2 separate regions of the Homo sapiens genome follow, and region 1 is linked to region 2. The links come from fine-mapping of genetic effects on gene expression. Tissue or cell type: lung. Region 2 holds a variant in brackets; the other region holds the start of a gene. All regions are shown on one strand. Distances are between the middles of the regions. Region 1 holds the start of PDE5A (phosphodiesterase 5A). Region 2 has its middle 23 kb from the start of PDE5A.

Evidence for each region. PIP is the estimated chance that this variant, and not a neighbour inherited with it, causes the effect.
Region 1: PDE5A starts here. The variant in region 2 is fine-mapped to the expression of PDE5A in lung (TOPMed, PIP above 0.99).

The regions. Positions count from the first base shown.
Region 1 is chr4:119,626,304-119,631,652 of GRCh38, reverse strand. It overlaps PDE5A (phosphodiesterase 5A), which reads left to right and starts at 2,849. Exons shown (of 21, transcript NM_001083.4): 1 at 2,849-3,133. The coding sequence starts at 2,982. LOC107986192 (a long non-coding RNA gene) reads right to left here and starts at 3,863. Exons shown (of 1, transcript NR_165235.1): 1 at 898-3,863. RefSeq lists silencers at 2,516-2,915, 4,136-4,415 and an enhancer at 3,956-4,005.
Region 2 is chr4:119,649,000-119,654,379 of GRCh38, reverse strand. No RefSeq gene overlaps it. Among named protein-coding and RNA genes, the nearest start is that of PDE5A, 23 kb to the right of the region's middle. The variant C/G (reference allele first, on the strand shown) is at 3,054.

The sequences.
Region 1 (5,349 bases), 23 kb after region 2:
CCTTGTGATATGTTTCTCAGGTAATAGGCCTTCACAGTAACTCCCAAACTATCATATATACCACACAGACTTGAGATTCACTATTGAGAGAATCTATGTACTGTTTTTCTTTTTTTTTCTTTTTTGTTATAGAGCCGGGGGTCTTACACTGTCACTGAGGCTGAAGTGCAATGGCACGATCATGGCTCACTGCAGCCTTGACCTCCTGGGCTCAATCCTCTTGCCTCAGCCTCTCGAATAACTAGGATTACAGGTGTGTTCCCCCATGCCTGGCTAATTTTTAAAAATTTTGTGTAGAGATGGGGTCATGCCATGTGGCCCAGGCTGGTTCAAACTCCTGAGCTCAAGTATCCTTCTACCTCTCCCTCCCAAAGTTCTGAGATTACAGGAATGAGCCACTGTGCCCAGCCTATAGATTGTTTTTCTTGAAGCAATTTTTCAGAAACCTTCCTGGTTTCTGATAATTTAACCCTTTCAGGTTAGGAGAGAAAAATGAACATTTTGATATTACCCACTGTCTTAGTCCATTTGTGTTGCTGTAATAAAATATCACAGACTGGGATATTTATAAACAATAGAAATTAATTTCTCTCAGTTCTGGAGGCTGGAAACTCCAAAATCAAAGTGCCAGCAGATTTGGCAACTGGTGAGGGCTGCTCTTTGCTTACAAAATGGCACCTTGTTGCTGCATCCTCAGCAAGGGTCAGTGCTGTGTCTTCACATAGTGGAAAGAATAGAAGGGGCCAACTGTCTCCTTTGGGCCTTTTTTTAAAAAGGCACTAATGCATTCACAAAGGCAGAGCCCTAATGGTCTAATCACCACTTAAAGGCACCTCCTCTTAATACTGTTGAATTAGGGATTAAGTTTCAACATGAATTTTGGAGGGAATACAAACATTGAAATGATTATACGTGTTTATTTAATCAAGTATCCAACAAAAGCAAATAATTCAAGCCCCAAATTCACTGCATCTTTAGTAGATAAGCAGAGTTTTAAATTACGATTGATCTCCTGTTAGGAGGAATGCATGGATTTCCACAAGAAAAAACTGTACTGAGGAGAAACTTTCCACAGTAATGTGCCACTTTTCAGTCAACGACAGACCACATATATGAGTCCCATAAGATAATACTATATTTTTACTGTACCTTTTCTATGTTTAGATATGTTTAGACACACAAATATCATTGCATTACAATTGCCTACAGTATTCAGTACAGTAATATGCTGTATAGATTTGTGGTCTAGGAGCAATAGCCTAAGTGTGTAGTAGGCTGAGCCATCTATTTTGTGTTAGTACACTGTGATGTTCAGAGAAGGATGAAATTGCCTAAGGATACATTTCTCAGAATGTATCCTGTTGTTCGGTGACGCATGACTGTATTCCATGAGCACTATAATCACTATCATAGTAACACATTAGGAGAGAATTCTCATTTCTAAATCCAATATAATTTATCACCCATTAGTTCATACTCTACTGCTTTGATTGCTTTTCTTTGGTTGTGGCTACCTGCATACAGCAGTAAAGTTTCAGAAAAACTGAAGTCGCAAAAGGTCAATTACTCAATGAAGGAAAGATAAACCATTGCATTGGGGGACTAGAAGATACTTTTAAAAGTTCTCAGATTATCAATTTAATGATGTGTTTCTATGTAGTGAATAATGCCTTAAATTCTTGCCAAGAGTATTTAGAAGGAAGTTGTCAGAAGTATATCAGCTAACTCATTTTTTTTTATATCACTGCTAATGGTGTCATTCACACATTGTGCAACCCATAATTCCAGATTTAATTCTACCAAAAAATATAGGTCATTGCAAAATGCCATATTAAAACTGCCAATGCATGACAGGAAGATGGGGATGCAGACAAAGCAAAGGATGACACCAATTCCTTTTTTAAAGAAGCAAGATAGGGATTGGACAAAAAGGCTGAGCCATTTTTAATGGATACTTTTGAGGGAGTGTTAATTCCAATTTAATTAAAATGATGCATTAATTTAAAATTGGGATAACTGGTTGCCCTCGACTGCACCTGGGTTGCGCCAGTGCTCTCGGATTAACCTAATTGTACAGAGGTGCCCTTGTTTTCTAACTTCATGCACAAAGCATTGGAAATTATTTGTTTGCTTTTTCTTTTCCAAGTAAATCTTTTTCCAGTTATGCATAAGGGAAGTTTGAGGCAATGGTTAAAGGCACTTAAGTTATAATTATTGCTGTTATCATTAACATTAAGCACGGGTATGGCTTTGTTGCAAGTTACCCACCTACACCTGCAAATCTCTCTTGCTAGCACACGCCCCAGCTCTCTCCACCCGCAGTGGTCCGTGGCTGGACCGCTTTAAGTCACTGAGCGGGCTGGGCTCTGAAGGAGGTCGGTCCCGCTCCTCCCAGACCCAAGCGTAGGGCTAGGGAAAAGCTAGGCGGGAAGGTCATTGCACTCCCAGGCCCCAGGAAAAGGGCCCAGGGTCTCATCATCTCTTACTTTCGGGCAAAACTTCCCACATCGCGACCTTCCCTCCCTGGGGCACTCTGAGAACACACCCAGTCACCTAGCGCGCTCCCCAGAAGTCGGCTTGGCACACAGCGCACCCCAGCGGCCGCGCGGCCTCCTTCCAGCCGCCGCCACTTGGCTTCCGGAGAGCTCGCCGGGCGCTGCCGCTGCCGCCGCCGCCGCCGCCTCCTGGGAACCAGGGGACTGAAGAGCCTGCGAGAGCGGAACACTGCCGGACCCCGGGTGGGGGGGGCGCAGCAGCTGCGCCTGGCCCCGCCCACCACACCTGGGCGCCCGTAGAACCGCGCGGGGCGGGGCGGGGCAGGAGGCTGGCCTGGCGCTCCGGCCGCTTTGTCGAAAGCCGGCCCGACTGGAGCAGGACGAAGGGGGAGGGTCTCGAGGCCGAGTCCTGTTCTTCTGAGGGACGGACCCCAGCTGGGGTGGAAAAGCAGTACCAGAGAGCCTCCGAGGCGCGCGGTGCCAACCATGGAGCGGGCCGGCCCCAGCTTCGGGCAGCAGCGACAGCAGCAGCAGCCCCAGCAGCAGAAGCAGCAGCAGAGGGATCAGGACTCGGTCGAAGCATGGCTGGACGATCACTGGGACTTTACCTTCTCATACTTTGTTAGAAAAGCCACCAGGTAAGAAGAGGACCCACGGAAGACCCGGGGCTGATTTCTCTCCCCTGTTGAATTGTGCCCTTCGTTCACCCCTGTTCCCAGGCCCTTTGCTTTTGAAGTAGGTCCTCGGTCCTGTTACGAGGTAGAAACCTCAACTCTAAGCGAGCACAGTCGAAAAACTCAAGTGTCGGATTTGATACAACTTGCTCACAAAGTTCAAATACAAAAATGTACTTGCCGACCTCCCACCCTCACCCCCGACCCTCTTGGTATTCCCCGGGAACATGATTATTTTCATACATCCGTGCTCACGGGCCTTCCCCTAGCCCCTCTCTAGCCCTCTGGTTCCCCAAAATCCAATCAGCAAAACCCAAACAGTTTCTGAGCCCCTTCCCTGCAGCTCCGGAAGCACCATTTCCAAGTCGGTCTTGATGGCTCCGCTCCTCCCCCGTCCCCCCTCGCCCTGGCCCTGGCTGGGCGGGGAAGCTGGGGTGAGGGACGAGTCCACGGGACAGCCCAAAGGCAACATGACGGAACCTTGCCAAAGTGAGTGCGGTTGCCTTTTCCCCCCTTCCAGTCTCCTGCTTGTCCCGCGCGCCTCCTTTCACTCGCTTTTCCGCCGAAGGCTGTGCCGCCAAAAGTAGAGCTCTGCAGAGGGGTTTGCGGCGTGCACACAAAGGGCGCAGGGGAGGCGCCGCCTGGAGCGGACCCCAAGGGGCAGCGCAGACCCCAGAGGCCAGCTCTTTCTGGTCCAGAGCCAAGCGCCGGGGCGGCCCTTGCGGAGGGCGGGGAGGAGGGAGCCTGTCCTTTTGGAGGCGGCTGCGCAGCGGGCAGTCGGGGCGCTCGTGGGAAACGCTCGCGGGAGAGTTGGGGAGGAATTGAGACTGGGAGCAGAGGGACAAGAAGAGTGGAGCAGAGAGTGCTTGGCGGGCGGGTGCCCCGAAGCCTGAGGAATTGATGCATAGTCGGGGTGCGTGGACTCCAGGACGCGCCCCTTTGCAGAAAGAGTCCGTGCCCCGCTGCCGCCTGCTCTGGGCAGCGGCCGTCGGGCAGCGGGTGCTGGCCGTCTTGGCCGGGAGGGTGACACACGCCCGGCAGTGATGGTCGAGGAGCCCGCCCGGGTTCGACGCCCGGGTCCCACTCGCCGGCGCGCGGCCGCGGCTCTGCCGGTCGCTCCCCGCCAGGGGGCGGCGCAGCGCGGGGCGAGCGGGAGGCGACGGGCGGCGGCGCGGAGGCCGGGGCCGTGAGGGAGCTGGTTCTGAGTCGCCGACCTCACCTCACCTCACCTGCGCGCGTTGTTGCCCCTACGGAGCCTCCTGGAGTCCAGGATCGGCGGAGTTCGAAAACGAACTTCCCACGTTTGCTATGTTGCCCTTTGGAGACAAAACAAGGTACTTCCTTCAGCATCCCCCTACGTCCCTTCCCACTTTTTCCGGGGGCGCGGCGGGTCTCGGGTGCTGGGTGGTGGCGCCCCGGTGGCACCAGTGGGACGATGTATCATTGAAAATTGACTGTATAACTTTTGTTGTTGTTGTTATTCTTTGCTCTCTTGCAGATGTATTAATAAGGGTCTTAAATTGGGCCCTTTTTAATCTTGTTTTGTTTTGTTTTGTTTTGTTTTTTTCCTAAGGAACATCCAGAGTTGGTGTCAATTTAGTCACTTTCAGGGTTTTTTGACAGAGGGGAAGGCTCCGGGATTAATCTTTTCAATTTAATAACCCAGCCCTTCTTTTAAAATCGTCTTCCCCCGCTTTCACCTTCTTCCTTCAAAATCCTAAATCTTGAGCGCCCAGAGGATAGCCCTGAAAGGGCACTTTTTTGCGAGTTTAGCGTGAGACACTAAGGCCATGGAGGTCTAGAATGATCGGTTGCTGTCGACTAACAGTTTTCAGGGGTCACCTGCCCCTCTGAGGCCATCTGCACCCACTTTCCTTTCACTCTGCGCATTCCCAGCCTTCTGCTCTCCTTGAATTACAGCGCATAGAATGATCAGGGGGCCAGAGAACCAGGCCGATTTTTAAAAGTATGTATTGGACCTGTTCTTTAGGCAGATTATAAACAGTTTAAAGAAAAAAAGTTATTGTTTAATAAATCAGCATAAATGTCCTTTCTTCGTTCCCTATTTTTCTTTTAAAGATGTAAACTAGGGATGGCTTGTTGGTCGTTTTTGACTAGTCATAGATAGGAACACTGCATTTTCAGAACCTACCAACACTTTGAAAGTGTAGCAACATTTT
Region 2 (5,380 bases):
ATATTAAGACGAAATCTCTCTGGAATTCCAAAAGCCAATATTCTAGCTTTCATAAGAGCGGGATTAGTTTTTACCACTTTACTCCAAATAAATACGCCATGAATACTAGTTGGGATGGAAAATAAGCAAACTTAAGAAGACATAAAAACTAATTGCTTTTTGTTTCATTTTTGAGATGGCGGTCTCACTCTGTTGCCCAAGCTGGAGTGCTGTGACCAATCATAGCTCACTTCAGGCTTAAACTCCTGGGCTCAAGTGATTCTCCTGCCTTAGCCTACCAAGCTTTTAATATATTTTTTAAGAGATGGGGATCTCACTATGTTGTCCAAGCTGGTCTTGAATGCCAAGCAATCCTCCTACCTCAGCCTCCTGAGTAGCTGGGATTACAGGTTTGAGCCACTGCACCTGGCCCAAAAATTGCTTTAAAAAATATATATAGTAACTTGATTATAGGCCATAAGTAATCATTTAACAGATAAAAACTTTTAAAGTTTTTAAGTAAATTAGGTTCCTATTTTATACTCTATAGTATATTCAAGGCATGAGCTTACTTTTGGAATATAAATATAAATAAAATGATAATTCACAAATTGCTAATTGCTCTTCCCTGCTAGGTCTTTGAACAAAATGCACATGGCATTTTAGGTTAATTGCTTAAGATAGTCTCAATTTGAAACCCCATATTGATAGCTCTGTGATCATTTAAATTCAGAATATCTTTTTTAAATTATGTATATTTTCATCATCTACTTAAGGGTCAAATGTTGTTTTTGAGCTTAAAAAGTATCATTCCTAATTGAAATAAATTTTAATGGCTGTGATTCCAGTGGTCTTTAAAAGTGCATTAAAAGTAATTTGTGGTCTTGGCTTAATTTGTTGGCTTTTTAAAATCTTTTAAGCCTTTTTAAAAAAATTGTAGTAATTCCATATGGTGTTAAAATATGCAAAGGTTATACAGGAATTCATACATAAATTATGTACCCATCTTCACTCTTCACTTTTCTTTGCCAAATAAATTATTACTTGAGTTTCCTGCTATCACAGGATACATATAATTTCACAAAACATACAATATACAATGTTAGGGAACTAGAACTTGATGACTTCAGATGCACAGGCATATTTGAATTGCTAAGTTTTTAAACTAATGTGGTCTTCAGAAGGGCTGTATTTGACTTGGCAGGCCCCTATGTATAAACTTCTGGGTTTGCAAGACAGTCCTACCATTTTGATACCATGAGTCAGGCCTGTCTTTTTTTAATGTGTTGTATTGACTCAACACCAGAGTTATATTTACAGCAGAACTGTTGATTAGAATAAAATGTGGATGGTGTATCGGTTAGAATAGTTTCACCTACAAATAACAGAAAGCCCAACTCAAACTAGCCTAAACAATCAGGTATTAATTGGCTTCTCGTCTAGAAGAGAGACTGGAAATATTTTACTTCTGGAAGAAGAGAAGGAGGGCAGGTGATTTTATTCTGTGGTTCTAGCTCATTTCTCTGTTCTTAATAGAAGCTTCATGTTCAGGGTAGTAGCAAAACAGCTATAGAAGGATCCTGACAATGTTCGAAGAAGAGGGTCACACTGAGAATCTCTCTCATTACAATGATGAATGCTTCTCAAAGAATCCTTTGAAAATCCACCCTAATATTATTAATTGGGTCACACATCATCTTCTGTACCAATCACTGGCTCTAGGAATGAACTTAGCCTTAGATACAGCAAAGTCATCCCTGGATCCAGCAGTGAAGTCAGGTCCTCCTTAGGCCCATGTGAGGTGTGAGACAGTAGAAGATACCTGCATAAGGCCTGGATATTGTTAGATGAAGGAAAATAATGAATGCCAGTAGAGAGCAGAAATGTCTATGTCAAATGGTGATTGGTGGTCACATGTAAAATGTAGCCCTCCAAAAATCAAAAGCAATACTCTTCCATACATAAAGGATTTTTATTCTGTAGCTGTAGAATGACTCAGAGTTGGGAGACTTTTTGCAATTCCATCTTTCAAGTTCATGGGGTGCTTTTAAACTTTTTTTGAAAGGGGATACATACCAGGTCAGTCATTCTGTAGCAACTATTTTTTAAATCAGTCTGTAACTTTGGAAATGGTATCAAACATTCCATTTGTTTCCCCTATTTGTTACTGTGCATTTCAAAGTATATATTTGCTAACCTTTATTCAACCAAACTTTAACAAGCACTTCCTATATTTAATGCATAATACTGGGCGTTTTTAAATACATCTATTATACATGTTTGACACATGTATGATTCATGTTAAATTGGTAGAGGAGGTGGAGTTTAAGATGGATATGCTGAGCTACTTGCTAATAGGAATGAGTGATTTATTGTCGCAAAATAAGAGATATTCAAATTGTTGTTACATTACATCTTCTATTTATATTATATTTTGATTTTGTCCCTAGACTAGCTACATTTAAGCATCCTACTAGTAGTATTCATACTTCACTTGTCACTTGATTTGTGTGACCTTAATTGATGTTTATACAACCCATTATATGATTAGAGATCATCCTCATAAACATCTAGAAGAAATTCTTAAGCTCTGTAAACCTACTTCCTCATTTATAAAATGGAAAGAAAATCTACCTTACTGAATGTGGGAAAGTTTAAATGAGATGAGGTGTGTAAAATCTTAGGGCCATGTCTGACATAAAGTATTCCCTCAACAGGCCAGGTGCGGTGGCTCACGCCTGTAATCCCAGCACTTTGGGAGGCTGAGGTGGGCTGATCACAAGGTCAGGAGTTAGAGACCAGCCTAACCAACATGGTGAAACCTTGTCTCTACTAAAAATACAAAAATTAGCCAGGTGTGGTGGCGCATACCTGTAATCCCAGCTATGCAGGAGGCTGAGGAAGGAGAATCATTTGAACCTGGGAGGCAGAGGTTGCAGTGAGCCAAGATTGCACCACTGCACTCCACCCTGGGTGACAGAGCAAGACTCTGTCACAAAAAAAATAAATAAATAAAAAATAAAAAGTGTTCCCTCAATAAAAGATAAGCAACTTTTGGGAAATGCCTATTGATG[C/G]AGACTCCCAATTAAAGAAGTTAACATTCTAAGGGTAGGAGGCATATAAATGCAAGTCCTTTAATTTCATAGTACTGTATTACAGAATTACTGTAATTACTGTGTGTGTGTGTGTGTGTGTGTGTGTGTGTGTGAGTGTGTGTGTTTATTAACGGCAAGAGTAAAGAATATGGAGACTGGTATAGTCTAGTTTAAATTTCCAAAAGTACCAAAAGCATAGGCTAGAAATCTCTTTGTAAATTTTCTGACACTAAACAAATGTTGTCTGTAGCTAGTATGACCTGCTCCAAAAACTCAGAGAATGAAACAATTGTACATATTTCTTATTTTATCCTAATCATTCAATCAAAAAAATCTTTTTAATAGATAGCCCAGCATACCCTCTTAAACTCTACCCCATCTTTTCCCTTACCCTGACCTTCTTTTCCCATTTACAGAGAACCTTCAGGGATCGTTCAATCCTGAATTGGTCAATCCTTGCCCAGAGACCAGGGGGAAAGGGAAGTGAGGTCCAGTCAGCCTACTATCACCAGTTTTTCATTGCCACGTGTCACTGTTGAAACTTGGTCTTGTCAGTTCCTCAGACCCTTTCTGGGCTGGTCCAAGCCTCTGCTCTGGCTTCAGGGATTCCTCTCACTTGGATTCCTGGAGTTCTCTTTGTTCACAATGTCTTGTTCAGTCATTATTCCCCAAAAACTTGATACTACATCTGGGCCGCTGGAGGCCGAGAGGCTTCTTGCTTAAATAACAAGCTATGTCACACCAGTCCTTCCCCATAACAACACCTGGAATCTTAAGTTTAGCCTGGATTGTCCAAGGCCATCCACTTTCTTAAAAAAACAAACAAACAAACAAAAAGAAAACTTTGTACCTAGGCATGCTATTGTCCTTTTTTGTTGCCACGTGTTGGTCAGAATCATCCTAGTCTTCCCTGACAGGTCCCTCTAACTCCAAATTTCTGGACACATGTCTTGGTCCCCATCTCACTGAGCTCCTGGGCTCCTCATGCAAACTACACATCAGGGTTTCTAAAGAATAACAATATGGAATGCCTCCTCATCCTATATTCACATAACTAGGGAAACCACTCTTAGTGGTTTCACATGGCTACTGTGACAAATTAGCAGCAATGTATTGGCTTAAAACAATACAAACTTACTCTCTTACAGTTCTGGAGATCAGAGGTCAGAATTGAGTCTTACAGGGCTAAAATTAATGTGTCTGCCGGTCTGATTCCTTTAAAGAAGGCTCAATTCTTTGCCTCTTCCAACTTTCAGAGGTTTCTGGAAATCCTTGGATCACGGCCATATTCAATTGTTACATGGTCTTCCATTCTATATCCAACCACCACTACGTCCAATCTCCATTTCTAAATTACATCACCTTCTCCTAAATTTAGCCCTCCTATCTCCATCTTATAAGAATGCTTGTGATATTTTAGGATAATCTGGCTAATACAGGATAATGTCCTCATCTCAAAATGCTTACCTTAATCACATCTGCAAAGTGTCTTTTACTACGTAAGGTAACAGGTCCTGGGGACTGGGATGTAGACATCTTTAGGGGCCCACTATTCTGTCAACCACACCACTCAAATAATTCTTTTCACAGCAAAGATTACTTCAGGGAGACCTTCTGTTTTCACCCTAGGCATAGTGGGAAGAAGCAGAATTCAAAGATATGTCTCAATGGGCATTTCCTTTAAATTTCACATTAACCAGCATCCTGATTTGCACTTTCTTAGCCACATGGCAGAGGGAGAAAATGTATCGAATGTATCAAAACTGCAGTTTTTGTATCCAGTAGGTTACTAAATAACATATAATTAGAGGAAACTATGATCAAAGGCATGATTAGAATATAAAATTCAAAATGTGCCCTTTCCATGGTCTATCCTGGGCCTCTCCTACTTATTGCTTGGTCTTCTGAAACCCAGGAATCAGACCATCCCTTACAGGTCTCTGATTGGGTTCAAGCCTGTCTACCTTTGAAGGACAAACTGCTAAGTAGGTTAAACTATTTCAGTTGGGCACCAAAGACATACTACCACGAGTTGTACCGAGCAACATGCCTATCTCAAAGGTTTCGCTGACTTTATATTTATTTATTATTTTTTATTGACAAAAATTCCATATATTTATCATATACAACATGATGTTTTGAAATAATATATACCTTGTGGAATGGCTAAATCAAGCTAATTAACATGTGTGACTTTATATTTTTGTCTTGGCTTTTCTCAGAACAACAACAAAAAAATTTAATGTTAACCAATTAGAATACCCATTCCTCTTAAGTATTTTATGCAATCCTAACTTCAAACATAA